Linked DNA regions of Homo sapiens. The protein of the gene in region 2 binds, or shares a complex with, the protein of the main gene of each other region. Each region holds a gene or a part of one and is shown on either strand. Other genes may lie near its edges. The genes, in order: HDAC1, MIDEAS and DNTTIP1. A codon is read from its position in the direction of its gene.

What was found.
Region 1: the proteins of MIDEAS (region 2) and HDAC1 are in contact, whole or in part, in a cryo-EM structure (PDB 6Z2J), measured with the Homo sapiens proteins. Residues at the interface, in NP_001036783.1 of Homo sapiens: Arg722, Asn724, Gly726, Ser727, Arg728, Phe729, Gln730, Glu732, Pro734, Leu735, Met736, Arg737, Asp738, Arg739, Ala740, Leu741, Ala742, Ala743, Ala744, Asp745, His747, Lys748, Ala749, Asp750, Leu751, Val752, Trp753, Gln754, Pro755, Trp756; in NP_004955.2 of Homo sapiens: Tyr14 (codon at 4,125), Gly17, Asp18, Asn21, Tyr23, Gln26, Lys31, His33, Arg36, His39, Leu43, Asn44, Tyr48, Arg49, Lys50, Met51, Glu52, Ile53, Tyr54, Arg55, Pro56, His57, Thr65, Lys66, Tyr67, His68, Pro81, Ala119, Val122, Lys126.
Region 3: the proteins of MIDEAS (region 2) and DNTTIP1 are in contact, whole or in part, in a cryo-EM structure (PDB 6Z2J), measured with the Homo sapiens proteins. Residues at the interface, in NP_001036783.1 of Homo sapiens: Gln768, Asp771, Leu772, Thr774, Ala775, Ser778, Ser779, Ile802, Leu803, Leu806; in NP_443183.1 of Homo sapiens: Pro63, Ser66, Leu69, Leu70, Ala72, Val73, Leu74, Pro76, Ser77.

Annotation. Positions count from the first base shown.
Region 1 is NC_000001.11:32,288,085-32,295,088, forward strand, and holds the start of HDAC1 (histone deacetylase 1), read left to right. Parts: upstream 1-3,998; 5' UTR 3,999-4,085; coding exon 4,086-4,134; intron 4,135-7,004. UniProt on the Homo sapiens protein: Histone deacetylase that catalyzes the deacetylation of lysine residues on the N-terminal part of the core histones (H2A, H2B, H3 and H4).
Region 2 is NC_000014.9:73,722,263-73,729,368, forward strand, and holds part of MIDEAS (mitotic deacetylase-associated SANT domain protein), read right to left. Parts: intron 5,263-7,106; coding exon 5,196-5,262; intron 4,711-5,195; coding exon 4,568-4,710; intron 4,446-4,567; coding exon 4,342-4,445; intron 3,847-4,341; coding exon 3,771-3,846; intron 3,099-3,770; coding exon 3,010-3,098; intron 586-3,009; coding exon 436-585; intron 1-435.
Region 3 is NC_000020.11:45,794,923-45,802,028, reverse strand, and holds part of DNTTIP1 (deoxynucleotidyltransferase terminal-interacting protein 1), read right to left. Parts: intron 6,685-7,106; coding exon 6,586-6,684; intron 956-6,585; coding exon 887-955; intron 628-886; coding exon 571-627; intron 31-570; coding exon 1-30. UniProt on the Homo sapiens protein: Increases DNTT terminal deoxynucleotidyltransferase activity (in vitro). Also acts as a transcriptional regulator, binding to the consensus sequence 5'-GNTGCATG-3' following an AT-tract.

The DNA.
Region 1 (7,004 bases), on a different chromosome or scaffold from region 2:
GAGGATAGTTTGAGCCCAGGAAGTCAAGGCTGCAGTGAGCATGATCCTGCCATTGCACTCCAGCCAGAGCAAAAAAGAGAGCGAAACCCCATCTCAAAAAAAAGGGAAGATTTAGCTATGTTGGACTTACCTGTCCTCATGGAGCTGAATAATGGCCACCCCTCCAGGTAGGGCCTGAACTCTACCTTTGCCAGAGTCCCCTCCACTCCCTGTTGGTCTTAGACAATGAAACTGAGTGTTAGTAGCTATTTACCACCAAGCTCATGCTTGTTGTTCTTATAATAAAGATAAATGGTTTAATAAATGGTATGATAAAGAAAATTATATTATGGTATTATACCATTTAATAAATGGTATAATAAAGAAAATGGTTTTTTGCACCCACATTTCCATTAAAAAGTGAGAAAATTAAAGATACCTGAGGATGGCAGAGTGTTTGATGAAAGATAGGGAAATGTTGGCCAGGCACCGTGGCTCACACCTGTAATCCCAGCAGTTTAGGAGGCCGGGGCAGGCGGATCACAAGGTCAGGAGTTCAAGATCAGCCTGGCCAACATAGTGAAACCCCGTCTCTACTAAAAATACAAAAAATTAGCCGGGAGTGGTGGCAGGTGCCTACAATCCCAGCTACTCGGAAGGCTGAATGGCGCGATCTCAGCTCATTGCAACCTCTGCCTCCCAGGTTCAAGCCATTCTTCTGCCTTAGCCTCCCTAGTAGCTGGGATTACAGGCGCCTGCCACCATGCCTAGCTAATTTTTATATTTTTAGTAGACGTGGGGTTTCGCCATGTTGGCCAGGCTGGTCTCAAACTCCTGACCTTGGGTGATCTGCCCGCCTCGGTCTCCCAAACTGCTGGGATTACAGGAGTGAGCCACAGTGCCCGGCCTCTAATTTTTATTTTTAATTTTTTTAATTTTTATTTTTTTAATTTTTATTTTATTTATTTTTTGTAATTTTTAAAATATACAAAAAAAGGGCCGGGTGTGGTGGCTCACGCCTGTAATCCCAGCACTTTTTGGGAGGCTGAGGTGGGTGGATCACGAGGTCAGGAGATCGAGACCATCCTGGCTAACATGGTGAAACCCTGTCTCTACTAAAAATATAAAAAAATTAGCCGGGCCTGGTGGCAGGTGCCTGTAGTCCCAGCTACTCGGGAGGCTGAGACAGGAGAATGGCGTGAACTCGAGAGGTGGAGCTTGCAGTGAGCCAAGATCGCACCACTACACTCCAGCCTGGGCGACAGAGTGAGACTTCATCTCAAAAAAAAAAAAAATTATATATATATATATACATATATATATGCAAACAAAGAGCATCTGAGTCATAATAATGTAAATCTATCACCTGACTGACCTGCTGCCACACCTCATGATCTCATCTGATCCCCACACTCCTTCTCTTTGGGATACTGTGTACAGCCATAGCGTGGGTGAACTTTGTATTCCTATCCTCCCCATTTTTGTTATTTTATTTTATTTCTTATTTATTTGAGACAGAGTCTCACTCTGTCATCCAGACTGTAATGCAGTGGCCTGATCTCGGCTCACTGCAACCTCCACCTCCCGGTTTCAAGCGAATCTCCTGCCTCAGCCTCCTAAGTAGCTGGGACCTACAGGCACACACCACCACGCCCAGCTAATTTTTGCATTTTTAATAGAGACGGGGTTTCACCGTGCTGGGCAGGCTGGTCTCGAACTCCTGACCTCAGGTGATTTGCCCACCTCAGCCTTCCAAATTGTTAGGATTACAGGCATGAGTCACTGTGCCCGGCCTCCTCCCCATTTTATAACAAGGGAAATGGAGGCCCAGAATGGTTAAGTAAACCCACCCAGGGCTAGCTGAGAATTAGCAACAGAGAACTGGGAGTAGAATTTGTTCCCTGGCCCTTTGCTGTTTCTATTATAAGCCACCCAGTCTTAGATTTTCTGTTACCTTATAATTAATGACTCAAATGCAGTTTCTGAGTGAGAAACACAAGTCCCAAACACTCTTTAAAGAGGCATAAAGATGTATCTTGTTGTTTTCTTTTGTTTGAGACAAGGCCTGGCTCTATTGCCCAGGCTGGAGTGTGGTGACATGATCTTGGCTCACTGCAACATCTGTCTCCTGGGCTCAAGCCATCATCCCACCTCAGCCTCCTGAGTAGCTGGAACTACAGGAGCGCGCCCCCACACCTGGGTAATTTTTCTATTTTTTGTAGAGATGGGGTTTTGCCATGTTGCCCAGGCTGGTCTCGAACTCCTGAGCTCAAGTGATCCACCCATCTTGGCCTCCCAAAGTGCTGGGATTACAGGCGTGAGCCACTGTGCCCAGCCTCTTGTTGACTGTAGGACCACAAGTTGGCGGCTAACTTAGAGCAATGTTTGGCACACAGGAAGCACTCATTAAATATTGACATTATTGTAGTTATTTTAATAGCCCAGCATTGCACTTTTAGGTCTTTCAGCTTTCAGTGATGATCAGTTGATAATTGATGATCTGGTGGAGTGGTTCTTAATGGTAGAGTTGGGGGCAATTTTACACTCCCTTACACCCCACTAATCTTCCCCCCAACCCAATGGTAAAGCTATTGCACAGTACTTGGCAATGTCTAGAGACAATTTTGGTTGTCACAGCCTGGGGGGAAGGTGCTACTGGCATCTAGTGGGTAGAGGCTAAGGATGCTGCTTAATTTTTTTTTTTTTTGAGACAAGAGTTTCACTCTAGTTGCCCAGGCACAGAACAGCTTCACAGAAGCTGTTAATGCACAGAATAGCTTCCTACAAAAAAGCATTACCTGGCCCAAAATGTCATTAGCTACCAGGCTGAGAAACCTGCCCTCCTAGGCCGGGCGCTGTGGCTCACGCCCGTAATCTCAGCATATTGGGAGGCCGAGGTGGGCGGATCCTGAGGTCAGGAGTTCGAGACCACCTGGACCAACACGGAGAAACCCAGTCTCTACCAAAAATACAAAATTAGCCGGGCATGGTGGCACATGCTTGTAATCCCAGCTACTCGGGAGGCTGAGGCAGGAGAACCGCTTGAACACAGAGGCAGAGATTGTGGTGAGCCGAGATCACACCATTGCACTCCAGCCTGGGCAACTAGAGCGAAACTCTTGTCTCAAAAAAAAAAAAAAAAAAAAAAACAGGGAAAGAAAAGAAAGGAAACCTGCCCTCCTATCATAGGATAATCCCATTTCCTCCTGTCTAAAGAGACGCCTACTTAGTCATCCTGGGTGACTGCATCAGGGAGGTAGATTTTGGAGTCTGAAAGGCTGGGTTCTGTCACTTTGTTACAGTGCCTCTGGTGCAAAGAAAGCATTTTAAAAACCCTGTACAATTAAAAAATTGAATTTAATTACTTTGTGTAACTTTGAATAATTCACAGAAGTCTGAACTTCTTTATCCTGTCCTGTAAAATGGAGGTAAAAAGCCCTTGGCCGAGAGCTGTTTTGAGGAAAAACTGAAATAACATTGGTAAAGTGTCGCACAGTACTTGGCACACAGCAGCCCCTCGACAAACATTAGCTTTCTTTCCCTTTCTTGTCGGTTTCTTCCTCTCCAAACCCGCGTGTTGCTTTTCTTTTTAATTATTTTTCTGTAGCCCTCCTTTGCGGCCACAAACTCGCTTTCTAACCCAGGTTCAGCCCTTTTATTGGCTGAGTGACCTTGTGCAAGTCACTTTTCCCCTGTAGGCCTCGGTTTATTCTCCGTAAAATCAGAAAGTTGGCCTCCGATCTCCAAGCACGCTTTTCACGACGAAGTGGGACTGTTAAGTTTACAGAGCTGCTTTCCTCCCCCGGGACTGATGGTACGGTCCCCGGGCGGCTCCCCACCCATCTGTCGCAGACCTTGGTACAGGCCCAGGGGGCCCTCGGCGGCCTCTCCGGGCTGCCCTTGCCCCCTGCCGAGTTCCGGGCCCGTGTCTGCGCAAGCTGATTGGCTGGAGCGGTGCCCGGGCTGCGCGGCTATAGGTGAGCCCAGGAGGGGACGGGCGGGGCGGGCCGGAGGCCCGCCCCCTCCCCCCTGGGTCGGACGCTGAGCGGAGCCGCGGGCGGGAGGGCGGACGGACCGACTGACGGTAGGGACGGGAGGCGAGCAAGATGGCGCAGACGCAGGGCACCCGGAGGAAAGTCTGTTACTACTACGACGGTGAGCACCGTCCTCGCGGCGGGGGCGGGGCCAGGCCGGGCCGGACCGGGAACCTGGAGGCTGAGGCTGGAGCGCCGATGGGAGGCTGCGGGAGGCTGAGGCGCTGGGGAGAGGCTCGGAGAGGAGGCTGCGAGGGGGAAGTCGAGGCTGAGGGAGGAGGCTGCGAGGAAGGGAGATCGAGGCTGAGACCAAGAGGGGATCGCGTGGGGGAAGCGTGAGGTAATCTTGATGGGAAGATTCTGAGGAAGTCTGATGTGGAGAGTTTGAGTGGGACTCCTAGAGGGGAGGGTGCGTCGGAGCGGGGAGGCTGAATCTGATGGAGACGGCTGCAAGGATACATTTTCTTGCCGAGAACCCAAAGCTCTTCCCTGCCCCGTCCCTTCCTCATCTTTTCTGGGGGAAGAGTCCTGCACGACTGGTTGCCCGCCTCCCCTCCCCCAGCCTCTGAGCGGGGCCTGCGGTTGCTACTGCGACGTGGGGCGCCAGGGGTTGCAAGGAGAAGGATGCAACCTGTTAAAACAGACTTCTCACTTAATCTCTCAAGCAGGTTACTGTGTTCGAGGAAGTGTTGAGGGGCTGGGGCCGTGGGGTTGATCGGGTCACCCTTCCCAGTGACCGAAGTTCTCTCCGTGTCAGAGCTCAGAGTGTTAGGGGAGCACAGAGAAGAGGCACCGAACTCCACCTGAGGAGTCAGCGAAGGAGGGGACATCTTAGTTAGGACCTGAAGAACAGGAGTTCTTAGCCAGGCACAGGGAAGGCAAAGATAACAGCAAGTTTCAGAGGCAAGAGAGAGGACAGGACCTTTGAAAAACAGGCATTTGGCCGGGCGTGGTGGCTCACGCCTGTAATCCCAGCACTTTGGGAGGCCGAGGCTGGTGGATCACCTGAGGTCAGGAGTTCGAGACCAGCCTGGCCAACATGGTGAAACCCCGTCTCTACTAAAAATACAAAATTAGCCGCGCATGGTGGTGTGCGCCTGTAATCCCAGCTACTCTGGAGCCTAAGGCAGGAGAATCCCTTAGAACCCGGGAGGCAGAGGTTGCAGTGAGCTGAGATCGTGCCACTGCACTCCAGCTTGGACAACAGAGCGAGGCTCTGTCTTAAAAAAAAAAAAAAAAAAAGATGTAAATAGGGACCGGACCATGAAGGGCTGGGCATGCTGTCCCAAGGAAGTTGGACTTTATTGAGGGCACTTGTGAGTGATTCAAGTTTTATGCAGGTTATTGACATCATCAGGTTTATACCTTAGAAATTAAAGTAATGGGGGCCAGGTGCAGTGGCTCACACCTCTCTAATCCCAGTACTTTGGGAGGCTGAGGCAGGCAGATCACTCGGGGCCAGGAGTTCAGGACCAGCCTGGCCAACACGGTGAAACCCCATCTCTACTAAAAATACAAAATTTAGGCTGGGCACGGTGGCTCACGCCTGTAATCCCGGCACTTTGGGAGGCTGAGGCGGGCGGATCATGAGGTCAGGAGTTCAAGACCAGCCTGACCAACATGGTGAAACCCTGTCTCTACTAAAAATACAAAAATTACCCGGGTGTGGTGGTGCGCACCTGTAATCCCAGCTACTCAGGAGGCTGAGGCAGGAGAGTCGCTTGAACCCAGGAGGCAGAGGTTGCAGTGAGCCAAGATTGCACCGCTGCACTCCAGCCTGGGCAACAGGGTGAGACTCCATCTCAAAAAAAAAAAAAAAAATTAGCGAGGTGTGGTGGCACATGCCTGTAGTCCCAGCTACTCAGGAGGCTGAGGTGCGAGAGTTGTTTGAACCTGGGAGGCAGAGGTTGCAGTGGGCTGAGATCTCACCACTGCACTCCGTCCTGGGCAACAGAGCGAGACTTCGTCTCAAAAAAAAAAAAAACAAAAAAATTCAGATTGTAGGGGTAAGGAAGAAGGCATGGATCCCAAGTTCCTGGTGTGGGCAGTATTTTTTATTTTTTGAGATGATGTCTAGCTCTGTCACCCAGGCTGGAGTGCAGTGGCTTGATCTCGGCTCACTGCAACTGCAACCTCCACCTCCCAGATTCAAGGGATTCTCCTGCCTCAGCCTCCTGAGTAGCTGGGATTACAGGCGTGCGCCACCATGCCTGGCTAGTTTTTGTATTTTTATTAGAGATGGGGTTTCACGATGTTGGCCAGGCTGGTCTCAAACTGACCTCCAGTGCTCCATCTGCCTCAGCCTCCCAAAGTGCTGGGATTATAGGCATGAGCCACACTTCCTGGCCTCTGATGTGGGCAATTTGATGGTGAGTGTTTGGAGGTTTGGAGAATGCCATGTCAGTTGATAACTTTTTTTTTTTTTTTTTTTTGAGATGGAGTCTCGCTCTGTCGCCCAGGCTGGAGTGCAGTGGCGCAATCTCGGCTCACTGCTGCAAGCTCCACCTCCCGGGTCCATGCCATTCTCCTGCCTCAGCCTCTCCAGTAGCTGGGACTACAGGCGCCCGCCACCACACTGGGCTGATTTTTTGTATTTTTAGTAGAGACAGGGTTTCACCGTGTTAGCCAGGATGGTCTGGATCTCCTGACCTCATGATCCGCCCGCCTCGGCCTCCCAAAGTGCTGGGATTACAGGTGTGAGCCACCGCACCCGGCCCCAACTTTTTTTTTTTTTTTTTAAACTTCTAGAGATGGGGTCTCAATATGTTGCCTGGGCTTGTCTTGAACTCCTGTGCCTGGCCTCAAGCAATCCTGCCACCTTGGCCTCCCAAAGTGCTGGGATTACAGGCCTAAGCCACTGTTTTTTTTGTTGTTGTTGTTTGTTTGTTTAGAAATAACTATTGATAACTGTTAAGATGTTTAGGGGACATCCAAGTAGAGGCATCCAGTAGGCAGTTTAGAAGATAGAAATTTTTTGGTAGTCATCAGTAT
Region 2 (7,106 bases):
CCTTCTGAGTAAAAAATGAGTTGACTTAAAGGAAAATATTAAGTAATGGCACAAGTAGTATATGAATATGACAAAAATTCTAATGGCGACACATGGTAGGATGCAGATATGGCAGAAATCAAAAAGGTGATACAAGAATGACTGAGGTTTGAGAAACAGTGTTAGAGGTCTGCTAAGCGGAGATAGGAAGATGATGCTGGTGTGAATCTTGTGGGAAAATTACCCTGTGTATCAACACAATGTATTATTACTATGACACCAGCAGTATAGAGAGGAGAACCCAGCGGTCCAGGGCTCCTTGCGGCTGTCAGGGACACTGTCTTCCTCAACCTGCCCTCTGCAGGCTCCTGGAGAGCTCGGGCTCGGGCTCCCAGCTCAGGCCTGGTCCCAGACCCAGCCCAGGCTCTATGCAGCTGAGGTTGGAAAAGGAGTCACCTTAATATCCACTTCAACCTCTTCCTGGGCCGACTTCTCATCGCTCGTATCCACATCCCCAAAGGTTAGAGTCCCATTGCGGCCGATTTTCACCTGCTTCTTGTAGGTGTAGTAGAACTCCACGCACTGGGCCACGGTCTTGGTCTGGATCTGGTTTGAAGTCAAAACTGAGGTCAGAACCCTCTGGTTTGGCTCATCTGCCTGTGGAGAATCCAGCCTTTCTCGTCCCTGCATCTTTCCCTTAACTTCAAGCCAAAATGAAACCCAGCCAACCCAGGCAATACAAGCATTTTTCCAATGCCTGCTCTGCAACAAACCACTGATCAATTAATCAATGCTTCAGCACTATTTAAAATAAGTAAATAAATAAAAAAAGCTATAAAGGACAATGTCGGAACCACTCGGGAGATGGCAATATGGATTGCATATCAGAGGGCATTACTGTATTTTTTTTTCTTTTTTTTGGAGACAGAGTCTCGCTCTGTCACTCAGGCTGGAGTGCAGTGACGCGATTTTGGCTCACTGCAACCTCCGCCTCCCAGGTTCAAATAATTCTCGTGCCTCAGCTTCCTGAGTAGCTGGGATTACAGGTGTGTGCCACCACAACCAGCTAGTTTTTTTTAAATATTTTTAGTAGACATGGGGTTTTGCCATGTTGGCCAGCCTGGTCTCAAACTCCTGGCCTCAGGAGTGATCCGTCTGCCTCTGCCTCCCAAAGTGCTGGAATCACAGGCGTGAGCTACCTCGCCTGGCCTGAATTATTTTATCAGGTTAAATTTCGTGGGCGTGCTAATGGTACTGTGGTTTTGTAGAATATCTTGGTTTTTAGGAGATACGTGCTGAAAGGTTTTAGTCATGTGACAGGATGACTGTAACTTACTTTTAATGATTAGCTGAATCAGAGAACAAGAGAGAGCTGTATATGTGTGTGTCTATGTTTAGACATAGAGAAAGAGAAAGCAAATATAGCCAATGTTAACGATTGCTAAATCTAAGTCCGGGGTGGATGGGTGTTCATTCTACTGTTCTTTCCATTTTCCTCTAAGTTTGAAATTTTTCAAACTGAAAAGTTGAGGGAAAAGGTCTGGGCACCATCTACATCCAAAGCCAGCCCTGACCTGGCAACACAGACGCTTTTCATTAATCCAGGCAAACAATTTCATTTCTCTCCAGGGAGCAGTGGCTGAGAAGTGAGCATACAGAAATGTCACAGTGTCCCCTGTCGGGGGAGGAACTCAAGGGAAACTCACAAGAAAGCCCTGGAAAACCTGAGGAGGAAGCGAAAGGCCTAAGTCTTCCTCCTGACTCTGCTACCACACAGCTATTCGAGCTTAGGCAAGTCACTCACTTTTCTAATTTCAGTTTTTTCATGTGTAAATAGCAAATGGGGTTAAGTAAGACTAGATGATCTCCAGGGACCTGCCTCTCAAGCTCTGAAATTCTAGCTCTCCCATTGCATAAATCTATTTGGCCACTGGGTTTAGTTTTTGGGCAACTTTCCCACACCCAGAGGCTGTTTCCTCTGACACCACCACACAGGCTCGCACATTGCTCAGCCACCGCTGGGCTGGGAGCTCCTGTCCAGAGAGGCCAGGGGTCAGTGTGGGCCCTTTGTGTCTGAGGAGGAAACAGACATGTTTCATCTCACAGAAATGGCCAAGTCACACATGTATTAATTAGGCCATTTACACATTTACTGTCAATTCTCTCTGACCCTTTGTTTGACTGACTAAAGGTCTGCTCATTTCATTAGGCATTAGGGGCGCCTCCGTGAATTTCACGGGCGTGTACTTCCCGTCAGTATTGCCCAATCAGGGAATAGCGTGTTACTAAAACACAGCAAAGGACTCCTCACAACAGGGCCCTTGTAGGGGAATTCATCATCAGCACTTTGTCTAGTCCCCAGGGCTGTTCCCAATACAATCTACAATCCCAAGAGGAAAGGGCATGCTCTTTTTAAAAACTCTTTTCCCTTGGCAGTCCACACAATTCTCTCTCCCCACAGCCCAGATTTTGTGAGACAGGGCTGGAAAGATGCAATTCCTTGGATTAGCAAAGCATCTGCTTTTCCAGAAGAATATGGAGAGAGGACAAGATAAATCTAGGGAATGTGGGCTTGAACAGCTGAGTTACTGGAAGGCAACTCTGGGTCAAAGGAAGTGGGCAGAGGCCCCCAGGTCAGCTCCGCAGGCACTTGCTGGCTCTCAGTGGCCTTCACCCCAGGGTGCCCTCCCCCTGCATCTTCCTCTGGGGAATGGCTCACCTCTACTTGCCACCCTCCTCCGCATCTTCCTCCTGCCTATTTTAAGTCTGATGCCCACTTAGGCCTCCTTCTGGATTGAGACCCCAGAGCTTGGCCACCCTACCCTGAAGTGAGGAAAGGATGCTTAGAACCAAAAGGGAAAAGAGACCTATCTTTCTCTTTCTTGTATTGTTTAGGAAATTCTCTCTGAGGCTACTCAGTAGCATTGACCTGACTGCTTTTTAAGAGGGATTGGTCACTGGCAGAGGGAGCCCCAAAGTCACACAGGCAGCTCCTGGCCCTCATTTGCCCTGAAACAGAGCCCAGCTCACCAGCTTCTGCACCAGGAAGAAATCCTTCTTGTAGATGGCAATGCCTTTGTTGAACAGCTTCCTCTCGGCCATCTTCCACTGGTCAGAGCCTATGGGGCAAAGAGGCAGCCAGGGAGTGAGGTGGGCAGGGCCCTGGCCACTGCAGGGCAATTTTGACAAGCAAAAAAGTGTGAGGCCATCCGCCCATGGTTTCTGCAGGCATCAGAGCCGGCTCCTCGTCCCACTTCCATGTGCCTCACAGCCTCGCTCCCTTGCTTGTGAAATGGAAACTAATATCACCTAGCTCACCAGCTGTGGTGAGGATTAAATAAGATAATGCATGTGAAACCCTTGGTGCTCTGCCTGGTGCAGATGAAATGTAGCACTAACATGCATGGAAAACATTGGCTGTTAGGATTATGTGACTCGGTCCATGTCCTTCTTAAAGTGACCAGAACAGGACATGCACTCCTGGGGCTAAGTTCCAGGTACCTGATGCCAATCTGGATGGCTCTCCATGGGTTCCTGTCCTTGTGGCCTGGGCTTTTTTGCCTGGATGGTCTCCCACCTGCCCACTCCCTTCTCCCCTCCCCTCCAGGGCACAGGAAACCCCTGGAGAGCTACCCCAGCTTTGGTGGCAGTTCCCTCACTCTGACTCTTGGCTTATCTACCCTCCTCCTCCCGCCCCCACCCAGGGCTGTGACTCAGCACTGAGCAGGGCCCCATGGATGCTGGAGACCTCTTGAGGCTCCAGGCACCATGCCCACCGCAGCCAGGCCCACCTGTGTAGTGATAAGTTGCCAGCGGATGGTTGTGGGGCCGCAGGGGCTTCTTCAGCAGCAGCTTATTCAGCGTTTCCTGGAGGGGAAGTGAGGGAAGGGTCAGGGCACTGACAGGGGTGTCGGTGGTGGACGGAGCATTCTAGGCCCTGATAAAATCCCGAGTAGGGTGGACACTTACTCTTGCCCCCTTAACTGCTGAGAGATAAGGGGTCCACTGGGGTGGTGAGATCACAGGGGGTGGGGCTGCCCAGAAAACAGACCTCAGGTCCTCTTAAGAGAGTCCATGGCCCCAAGGGAGGCAGCACTGCTGGAGAAGGCTCTCAGCAACCATCCAGTCTGAGTCCACTGACCCAGAATCAGGGATGGGAATGGACAGGAGGACACTGCACAGCAAAACCCGGGGTCTGAAACTAGGGCTCCCTTGGGTCAAGCCCCTACAGCCCCTTCCTTAGTCAGACCCTCCTACTGGCCTCAAATGTGCATGCCAGCAGCCATAGGTCCTGAGCAGCAGACATGGATCCAAGCCAGCCCCCACTGAGGGGCCCTCCCTCTGCTGGGGTTGCCTTCTCACCAGGATGTCTCCTCTGGATTCGTGCAGACAGTGCAGGGCCAGCTCCTGGTTGGTGCCAGCACCAGGGAAAATGCTGGAGCAGGCGGCTGTCAGCAGGTCTTCCACTGGATCCACAGGAGCATGAGGAGGGAGGGGAGGAAACCACGTTCAGGGCGGGGCTGGGCAGGGTGAGGCCTGGCCCACCCATGTGCCTGCCCTCACTTGCTGCCCCCAGGCCCCTCCTCACCTTGCCTCTGCTTCTCCCGGCTGCTCTCTAGGTCCTCCCATGGCTGCCACACCAAGTCAGCCTTGTGGGGATCTGCAGCTGCCAGGGCACGGTCCCTCATCAAGGGGATTTCTGCCTGGAACCGGGAGCCCACGTTGATCCGTCTAGAGGAGTGAAAAGGGCAGGAAGTGAGGCCTCACCTTGCGGGGACGGAGAACTTGATGATCCCTCAGGGTGGGAAGAAGATGAGGGGGAGCCGGCAGAGCAAGGCCTCAGCTAGGTGTAGGGAGTCTGGCTTCTAGGGGCTTGGGAGGACAGCCTGACCTGGCACCACCAGAAAGGCAAGGTCCAGAGGCTGGAGAGGGGAGAAGCAGCTGCAGGTTTACAGATGGGAAAGAGCCTCTGGACCCCCCTTTCAACTCTCCTAGAGATAAGTTCAAGCTGAGCCGGTCCTTGCCCTTCCCTGCAACTTCCACACAGAGGCAGGGCGGGGACAGCAAAGCCCAGGGCCACATACAGAAGCTCAAGGAGGCCCTCTCAGCCCTCTGCAGGCCCCACGGAACCCTCCTGTTGCTCCCAGGGCCCACCTGCACACACTGCACCAGTGTGGCCACCCACACCCCTCGGCCAGGGGCAGGGCTGCACTTACGGCTCGATGCTCACTGGGGTGGCCTCCCCCATCACAGAGAGGACAGGCGGGGTTACTTCAGCACTGTCTATGGGACAAAGAGCAGGTTGATAAATAGCACCCCCCTTTCAGCAAAGCACCCCCAATCCTAGTGGCTGCCCTGTATGTGCAAGAGTCACAGTGGTGACACACAGAGCTCACGCAGGGAACACAGGCACCTGAGTCCTGGCTCTGCAGCCTGTCACCTACGAAAACGCAGGCCCTTCACTAAATATTTGGGTGCCTCAGTTTTCACACTCACCAAAAGGGGCTATCACTACCTGTCTCCTACGGTTAATGTGAGAACTGGATAAAATAATGCACAGAGCCTGGCACTCGATAAAGATTATTATTACTGCTTCTACTACCAAAGCCATATCCTTGCCCCCAGAAGCTCCAACACTAACTCCAACATAAAGCTGTGGTTTTCTAGTAAAGAGACTGAAACTTTGAGCACACTAGGGAGGTGGTGAAGGGGATCGCTGTTTTATAGTTATCGTCTCACTTCCTCTTTGGATTTTCTGCCTCAGTTTCTCCCAAGCTAGTTTTTTTTTTGTTTTTGTTGTTGTTGTTGTTGCTTTTTGAGACAAAGTCTCACTCTGTCTCCGCCCAGGCTGGAGTGCAGTGGTGCGATCTCGGCTCAAGGAGTTGAACCTCCAAGTTCAAGCAATTCTCCTCCCTCAGCCTCCCAAGTAGCTGGAATTACAGGTGTGAGTCACCGTGCCCAGGCCCAAGTTGGTCTTCTTAAGGCCCCACATGATCAAAACACTCCTTTGCTTAAAAAAAAAAAAAAAAAAAAATCTTTGCTCTTTACTGACTCCCTCCTGCAATGTGAGATAAAACCTGCAACCCTCCCCTCAGGGTTCAAGGCGGTTCCGCTTCCATTTGTACCTCCCACCACCCATGTGCCTGGACCTGCATCCTAGCTGACTGCTTACCTCCCAACCCCTCACTCTCCCTGCACGGTCCCATCTACAGGCCTTTGCACCAGTCATTTCCTCCGCCTGGTGTGTCCTCCCTGCCCCCCGCCCTCCTCCATCGCTGCGGCTCAGCTCTGGCCCCACCCCTCTTGAATACAGTCCTCACCATCCCAGGCTAGCTGCTGGGGCTTTGCTCACTGGCTGCAGATCCCACACTACCGGGAACCTCTGTTTTTTCAACTCCAAGGCTTTCATGTCAACTCCCTAATGACCTTGCATTCTCTATAGAACAGACCATGGTGTCCTGTACATTCTTGGAGCCCTCACAGGACCCAGTACAAGGCCTTACGCCCGAGTGTTCGGTAGATACTCGTGGACAGACTGACCTCTCGCTGGCTGCCAGTCTGATCTCTACAATGACTTCCTCTTCCTACACAGCCTAGCCAGGGAGAAGCCTCCCCAGGAAGCAGTACAGAAGGCTGGCCAGCCTAGGGCAAACATTTTGCATCCACAGACACCAGGGGGCACCAGAGAGCTACACCATGGGTGAGGTCACAGTCAAAGGTTAATTGGCCAAAGGCATCTATAAGCTAGCTACTTCCACTTAATCCTCTCTACCACCCTAAGGGATTGGATTATCCCATTTTGCAGAGGAAATGGATCTCTTTATGGAGTGGGCAACATTTTTCAGCAGTACATCACCCCAAGCCAGCCCAATATTTCCAGAATGTCTGCTTTTGGCCAAAAAGACTGTTCGAGAGCCCCAGAGACTAGATCTGCCACAAAGGACTATGAGCAAACAGGATGGCCTGGGCATGATGTTCCAGCTTTATGTGTGCTAATGCACCTGAGCCTAGGAAGTGGCTATTAGGTTGAACCAAAGGAAACTACTATTTGTGAATCCAAAAATAGTTGAATATTGGCAGTTTCATCATCAACCAAGTAATACTAATATCCCCATCTTAATACTGAA
Region 3 (7,106 bases), on a different chromosome or scaffold from region 2:
CAGGATGTGTCCAGGAGGCCGTCCTTTCCTCTGCCACAAAAAACAGCTGTCAGAGGTCTGACCCTGTGGTTACTCCCCATACCCCATTGGCAGGTCCAGGGTCACTTGGCAGAGATGGTTTTCCAAAGAGATCAAATGATGTTTGACAGGGACAGGGAGAAAAACTGCCTCTCATGTCTAGGAAGGCTCAAAAGGGCTTTGAGGAAGCCCAGTACCTTGCGGAGTGAAGAGCCTTTTTTGAGAGACAGGGTCTTACTCTGTTACTCAGCCTGGAGTGCAGTGGCATGATCATAGCTCACTACAGCCTTGAACTCCTGGGCTCAGGTGATCCTCCCACTGCAGCCTCTCATGTAGCTAGGACGACAGAAATGTGCCAGCATGCCTGGCTAATTTTTTTTTTATTTTAGAGACAGGGTCTCACTATGTTACCCAGACTGGTCTCAAAACTCCTGAGCTCAAGTGATCCTCCCCGCTTGGCCTCCCAAAGTGTTGGGATTACAGGTGTGAGCCACCACACCCGGCCTGACAAGCCTTTTTTCAGCCAGAAAACAAAACAAGGAAATGGTTTACCTTTTTAGGAAGGGGGCTTCCTCGATGGGCACATTCTTCTTCTGCCTGACGGCCACGCTAAAAGAAAAGGGAAGGGAGTCAGTGGAAGGCCAGTGCCTGGGAGCTGCAGGTCTTCTGGAGTTGCAGAAGACAGCCCTGGACTACAGCTCTCCAGCCCCGCTCTGACCCAGGCCAAAGAAGCCCATCCAGCATGATGCTGTGTGGGCCTGGTCCTACAAATGGAAGTACATGGAACCTCCCTGGGCCCACATATTTCACTTGCCTCCCAGCCTGAAGGACCTCCCGCTCCAATACCCGAGAACACAGTGACTCTGACCTTTATTCCTGGAAGCTCATGGGTCAATCTGGGTATTACTTTTTCTCCATCTGAAAAGAGCAGTTTAGCCTGAAGGGAAAAAGACCAAGTGTTACCAGTCACTATTTTGGTGGGTAAGCACACCCTACCTACTTCCTTTTTTTTTTTTGGAGACAGAGTCTTGCTCTGTTGCTCAGGCTGGAGTGCAGCAGCACCATCTTGGCTCTCTGCAACCTCCATCTCCTGGGTTCAAGTGATTCTCATGCCTCAGCCTCCAAAGTAGCTGGGACTACAGGGGTGCGCCACCATACCCAGCTAATTTTTGTATTTTTGGAAGAGACGGGATTTCACCATGTTGGACAGGCTGGTCTTGAACTCCTGACCTCAAGTGATCGGCCCACTTCCAAATATATATATATATATATATATATATATATATATATATATATATATATATATATATATATATTTTTTTTTTTTTTTTAAATTGAGATGGAGTTTCACTCTTGTCGCCCAGGCTGGAGTGCAGTGGTGCTATCTCAGCTCACTGCAACCTCCGCCTCCTGGGTTCAAGCGATTCTCCTGCCTCAGCCTCCCAGGCAGCTGAGATTACAGGTGCCCACCACCATGCCCAGCTAATTTTTGTATTTTTATTAGAAACGGGGTTTCACCATGTTGGCCAGGCTGGTCTCGAACTCTTAACCTCAGGTGATCCACCTGCCTTGGCCTCCCAAAGTGCTGCGATTACAGGCATGAGCCACCACGCCCAGCCACACACATATATATATTTATATGCATAGAAATAGATATCTATTTTTAAAAAAACTTGAATTAATGATCATGGCTGGAAAAATTAAAAAATGTAAAAAAGCAAAATAAGAAAAACCTGGAATCTCATTACATAAACTACTATTAATGTTTCAATGTAAATTCTTCCTTGCTTTTCCCATGTAAATACATACTGTATGTTTTTTCAAACTAAATACATTAGTATAACACATACTCCTCAGTAAGCTGCTGTTTTTCTTTTTTCTTTTTTTTTTTGACATGGAATCTTGCTCTGTTGCCCAGACTGGAGTACAGTGGTGCGATCTCGGCTGTCTGCAATCTCCGCCTCCCAGGTTCAAGCAATTCTCCTGCCTCTGCCTCCTGAGTAGCTGGGATTACAGGCGTGCAACCACACCCAGCTAATTTTTTTTTTTTTTTTTTTTGGTATTTTTAGTAGAGATGGGGTTTTATCACGTTGGCTAGGCTAGTCTCACACTTCTGACCTCGTGATCTGCCCGCCTCAGCCTCCCAAAGTGTTGGGATTACAGGCGTGAGCCAGTGCGCCTGGCCTGCTGTTTTTCTTTTAATAAATACTGAGTACCTGGGACCTAAGTGCTGTGGACACAGCAGTAACTAGGACAAGCTCTTGTGGAGCTTATAGTTTGTGGGTGATCTGGATAATAAGCACAGAAACAAACAAGGTAACTGTGGATCATGATAGATGCTGTGAGAAAAAAAGAAAAAAACCCAGGCAGATGTGACAGAGAACCACCAGAGGGGAAGGGCTACTTTGCGGGAATGGCCAGGGAAGGCCTTGCTCAGAAGGTGGCCTCTGAGTTGAGATGTGAAGGAGGCTGTAAAAAAAGCTGGGCAGAAGTGTTTCAGCAGCAGGGAGGAGTGCAGAAGCTCAAAGGTGGGAACACCTGGCTCATTTGACAAAGAAAAGGATGGAATGGGCAGAGGGGAGATGGTGCAGCAGGTGGAGAATTGGGTTCACCCGACCTCTGCCAGTGGCATTTGACAGTGCTGAGGGCTCCCCCTTCTGGAAACACTCTTTTCTACAGGCTCCTGTGGCCACACTTCCTGTGTTCCTTCTACTTCTCTGGCCGTTCTTTCTTAGCCTTCTTTGCTGGCTTTTCCTTCTCAATCTGGTTCTTTTCCCTATCCTCTCTCATTACATATTCTATCTGCTCTCACCTATTCTCACAGCTTCAATTAACATCTATAAACCACGATTCCATAATTCAACTGTAGACAAAAGGTTATCCTCTGAGCTCTAGACTTATATACCAAATAGTCTGCCCCATGTCTATGCTTGGATGGCTCAAAGCTGCTAATCCATAATTGGATTCATGCTCTTCTCCTCCAAACTTTGTCCCTTTCCAGTGAAGGGTGATCAAGTCTCAATGTGTAATTATGCACACATTTGTTGGTAATCTAATTCACACCTGTCTGCTTAAGTAGGCTGTTAAGTTCTATTAGAGCAGGAAGCTTGTTTGTTCATTTATCATTTGTTTGTTCCTTCATTTACTCAATAATTCAGCAAACTCTGTACACATACTAAGAGTCATATTCCAGGGCTGGGAATACAGTGGTGAACAAGATTAGGCCTCAACTCTTGTAAAGCTCAAGATTTTAGCAGAGGTAGGAGTGCGAGGGGAAGACCTCTCTGATATTTAAACTAAGATCTGAAGAAAAGAAGGAGCCGGCTTTATAGAGTTAAGGGTAGAGTACCCCAGGTACTAAGAACAGCAAGTGAAATGGCCTAAGCTTGTGCTGGAGGAGCAGAAAGGAGTTCAGAACAGCCAGAGTATAGTCAATAAAAAAGAGGTGAGATGAAATGAAGTTAAAGAAGCAGGCAGAAGCCAGTCGAGGGTAGGCTCTGTGGGTCATGGTAAGGCATTTTTTTTTAAATTATACTTTAAGTTTTAGGGTACATGTGCACAACATGCAGGTTTGTTACATATGTATACATGTGCCTTGTTGGTGTGCTGCACCCAGTAACTCGTCATTTAACATTAGGTATATCTCCTAATGCTATCCCTCCCCCCTCCCCCAACCCCACGACAGGCCCCGGTGTCTGATGTTCCCTTTCCTGTGTCCATGTGTTCTCATTGTTCAATTCCCACCCATGAGTGAGAACATGCGGTGTTTGGTTTTTTGTCCTTGTGATAGTTTGCTGAGAATGATGGTTTCCAGCTTCATCCATGTCCCTAAAAAGGACATGAACTCATCACTTTTTATGGCTGCATAGTATTCCATGGTATATATGTGCCACATTTTCTTAATCCAGTCTATCATTGTTGGACATTTGGGTTGGTTCCAAGTCTTTGCTATTGTGAATAGTGCCACAATAAACATATGTGTGCATGTGTCTTTATAGCAGCATGATTTATATTCCTTTGGGTATATACCCAGTAATGGGATGGCTGGGTCAAATGGTATTTCTAGTTCTAGATCCCTGAGGAATCGCCACACTGACTTCCACAATGGTTGAACTAGTTTACGGTCCCACCAACAGTGTAAAAGTGTTCCTATTTCTCCACATCCTCTCCAGCACCTGTTGTTTCCTGACTTTTTAATGATCACCATTCTAACTGGTGTAAGATGGTATCTCATTGTGGTTTTGATTTGCATTTCTCTGATGGCCAGTGATGATGAGCATTTTTTCATGTGTCTTTTGGCTGCATAAATGTCTTCTTTTGAGGAGTGTCTGTTCATGTCCTTTGGCCACTTGTTGATGGGGTTGCTTGTTTTTTTCTTGTAAATTTGTTAGAGTTCATTGTAGATTCTGGGTATTAGCCCTTTGTCAGATGAGTAGATTGCAAAAATTTTCTCCCATTCTGTAGGTTGCCTGTTCACTCTGATGGTCATTTCTTTTGCTGTGCAGAAGCTCTTTAGTTTAATTAGATCCCATTTGTCAATTTTGGCTTTTGTTGCCATTCCTTTTGGTGTTTTAGTCATGAAGTCCTTGCCCATGCCTATGTCCTGAATGGTATTGCCTAGGTTTTCTTCTAGGGTTTTTATGGTTTTAGGTCTAACATTTAAGTCTTTAATCCATCTTGAATTAATTTTTGTATAAGGTGTAAGGAAGGGATCCAGTTTCGGCTTTCTACATATGGCTAGCCAGTTTTCCCAGCAGGATCATGGTAAGGCATTAAGACTTTATTCTCCCTGCAACAGGAAAGTCACTGAAGGGTTTTTAAAATGGGGAGTGACATGATCTAATTCATCTTTACGGAGATCAGTCTGGCTGCTGTGAGAAGAGTGGATTGGAACTGGGTAACGGTGAATGTAACTCTGGACTGAGATATAAATGTGTGAATTATGAGCGGCTGAATTGGCTTCCAAGCCACAGGACTAGATGAAAACACCTATGAAAACAGTGAGCCATGAAAGAGAAGGGGTTTGAGGACTGAACTTGGGAAGGCACCAACAGTTAGAGGCGGGGGGTGAGAGAGAAGAGTAGGCAATGAGGTTGGAGCAAAGTCAAGGCACTCTAGCCAACAGAGGAGCATTCCAAGAAACGCGAAATGATCCATTGTGACAGATGTCACTGAGAAGCTGAGTAAGTTGAGGACAGTTAGGGACCAGAGGGTTTGACAACACGGAAGTTACTAGCGACCCCGACAAGAGGGGTTCCAGTGAAGTAGTGGGGACTGAAGCGAAAACAAAGTGAAGAGAATGAATAGGAGGTGAGAAAGTGAGCCAGCGACTATTGGCGACCTTTCCTGATGTCTCCCTATAAAATGGTGATGGCAACAATTCCTCCTAATAACAGCAGCTGACACATGTAAACAGGTTCTCTACTATCTTGGGAACAGTCATTTATAGACCTGATGTCATGCTTCCTGACCACACCAGAGAGGCAGGGAGGCAGCAGGGTGCTCATCCCCATGATACCAAATGGGGCCATGATAACTTGATCCACCACGCACCTGCAGGGGTGAGACAGATCTTAGCTATTCTAATTATTATGTGTCTTAAGCCATTTCTTTTTTTTTTTTTGCTTTGCTTTTAAAAATTTTTTTCTAGCTCTATTGATGTATAATTGATAAACAGAAATGGTATATATTCAAGGTGTACAATGTGATGAATTGACATAGATATACATAGTGAAATGATTACCACAATGAAATCAATCAACACATCCACCACTACCATTTTGTGTGTGGACACTTAAGATCTATGGTCTTAGCAAATTTCAAGTAAACAATAGAGATAAACTATAGTCATCATGCTGTACATCAGATTGCCCAGAACTTGTTCATCTTATAACTAAAAGTTTGTACCCTTTGATTAACATCCCCCCACTTCTCCCCTCCAGCTACTGCCATTCTACTCTCTGCTTCTATGAGTTTGCTAAGTCACAATTTCTTCATCTATAAAATAGTAATTAAAAGATATCTTCTGTACATAGTTTCTTCTGAGACATAAAAAAAAATAATGCATTTATCCTGGTACCTGACATATAGTAGCTACTTCCCTTCCTTTCCCTGTCAGCAACAGCCTCAAGCCTATCTCAATATGTGGCTTGCTGGGCATTCCCCAAAATACCACTGATGACAAGATCACATTTCTTTTTTTGTTTGTTTTTGAGACAGAATCTTGCTCTTTCACCCAGGCTGGAGTGTAGTGGTGCCATCTCGGCTCACCGCAACCTCTGTCTCCCAGGTTCAAGCGATTCTCGTGCCTATGGCTCCCAAGCAGCTAGGATTATAGGCGTGCACCACCATGCCCAGCTAATTTTCGTATTGTTTGTAGAGATGGGGTTTAGCCACGTTGCCCAAGCTGGTCTCAAACTCCTGGCCTTGAGTGATCTGCCCACCTTGGCCTCCCACAGTGCTGGGATTACATGTGTGAGCCACCACGTCCGGCTTAAGATCGCATTTCTTATCAGAGGCTCGAGAGCTAAACCTTGTGCCTGCATCTCTTGTCCCCTTTGGTCTCACCTGCTCCAGGCAGCTCCGACAGGCTTCCTGGATCAGCTGCTCTGCGTCCACCTCCTCCCCAACATTGTCTCGCACGTTCAGTGCTGCCTTCTGGAAGAACTAGGGGAGCACAACAGAGGACAAGGTCAGAGTCCTGTTAATGTGCATCAACCTGAAGGAAACTGAATATAAAATAAGTCTTTATCCTAGCTTCATACAGAAGGGAAAAGTGATTATGAGCAGGGCTTTGGGATCAGCCAGATTTAGATTCACATTTCAGGCTTGACCTCCTCCCTTTATTCCCCCTCTTACGGATATAATCGTGGGGGTGCCCAACAGATTGAGGTGTAAATAGTGCAAAAAATCAGGACGGGCGCGGTGGCTCACACCTGTAATCCCAGCACTTTGCGAGGCCGAGGTGGGCGGATCACGAGGTCAGGAGATCGAGACCATCCTGGCTAACACGGTGAAACCCCGTCTCTACTAAAAATACAAAAAATTAGCTGGGCGTGGTGGCGGATGCCTGTAATCCCAGCTACTTG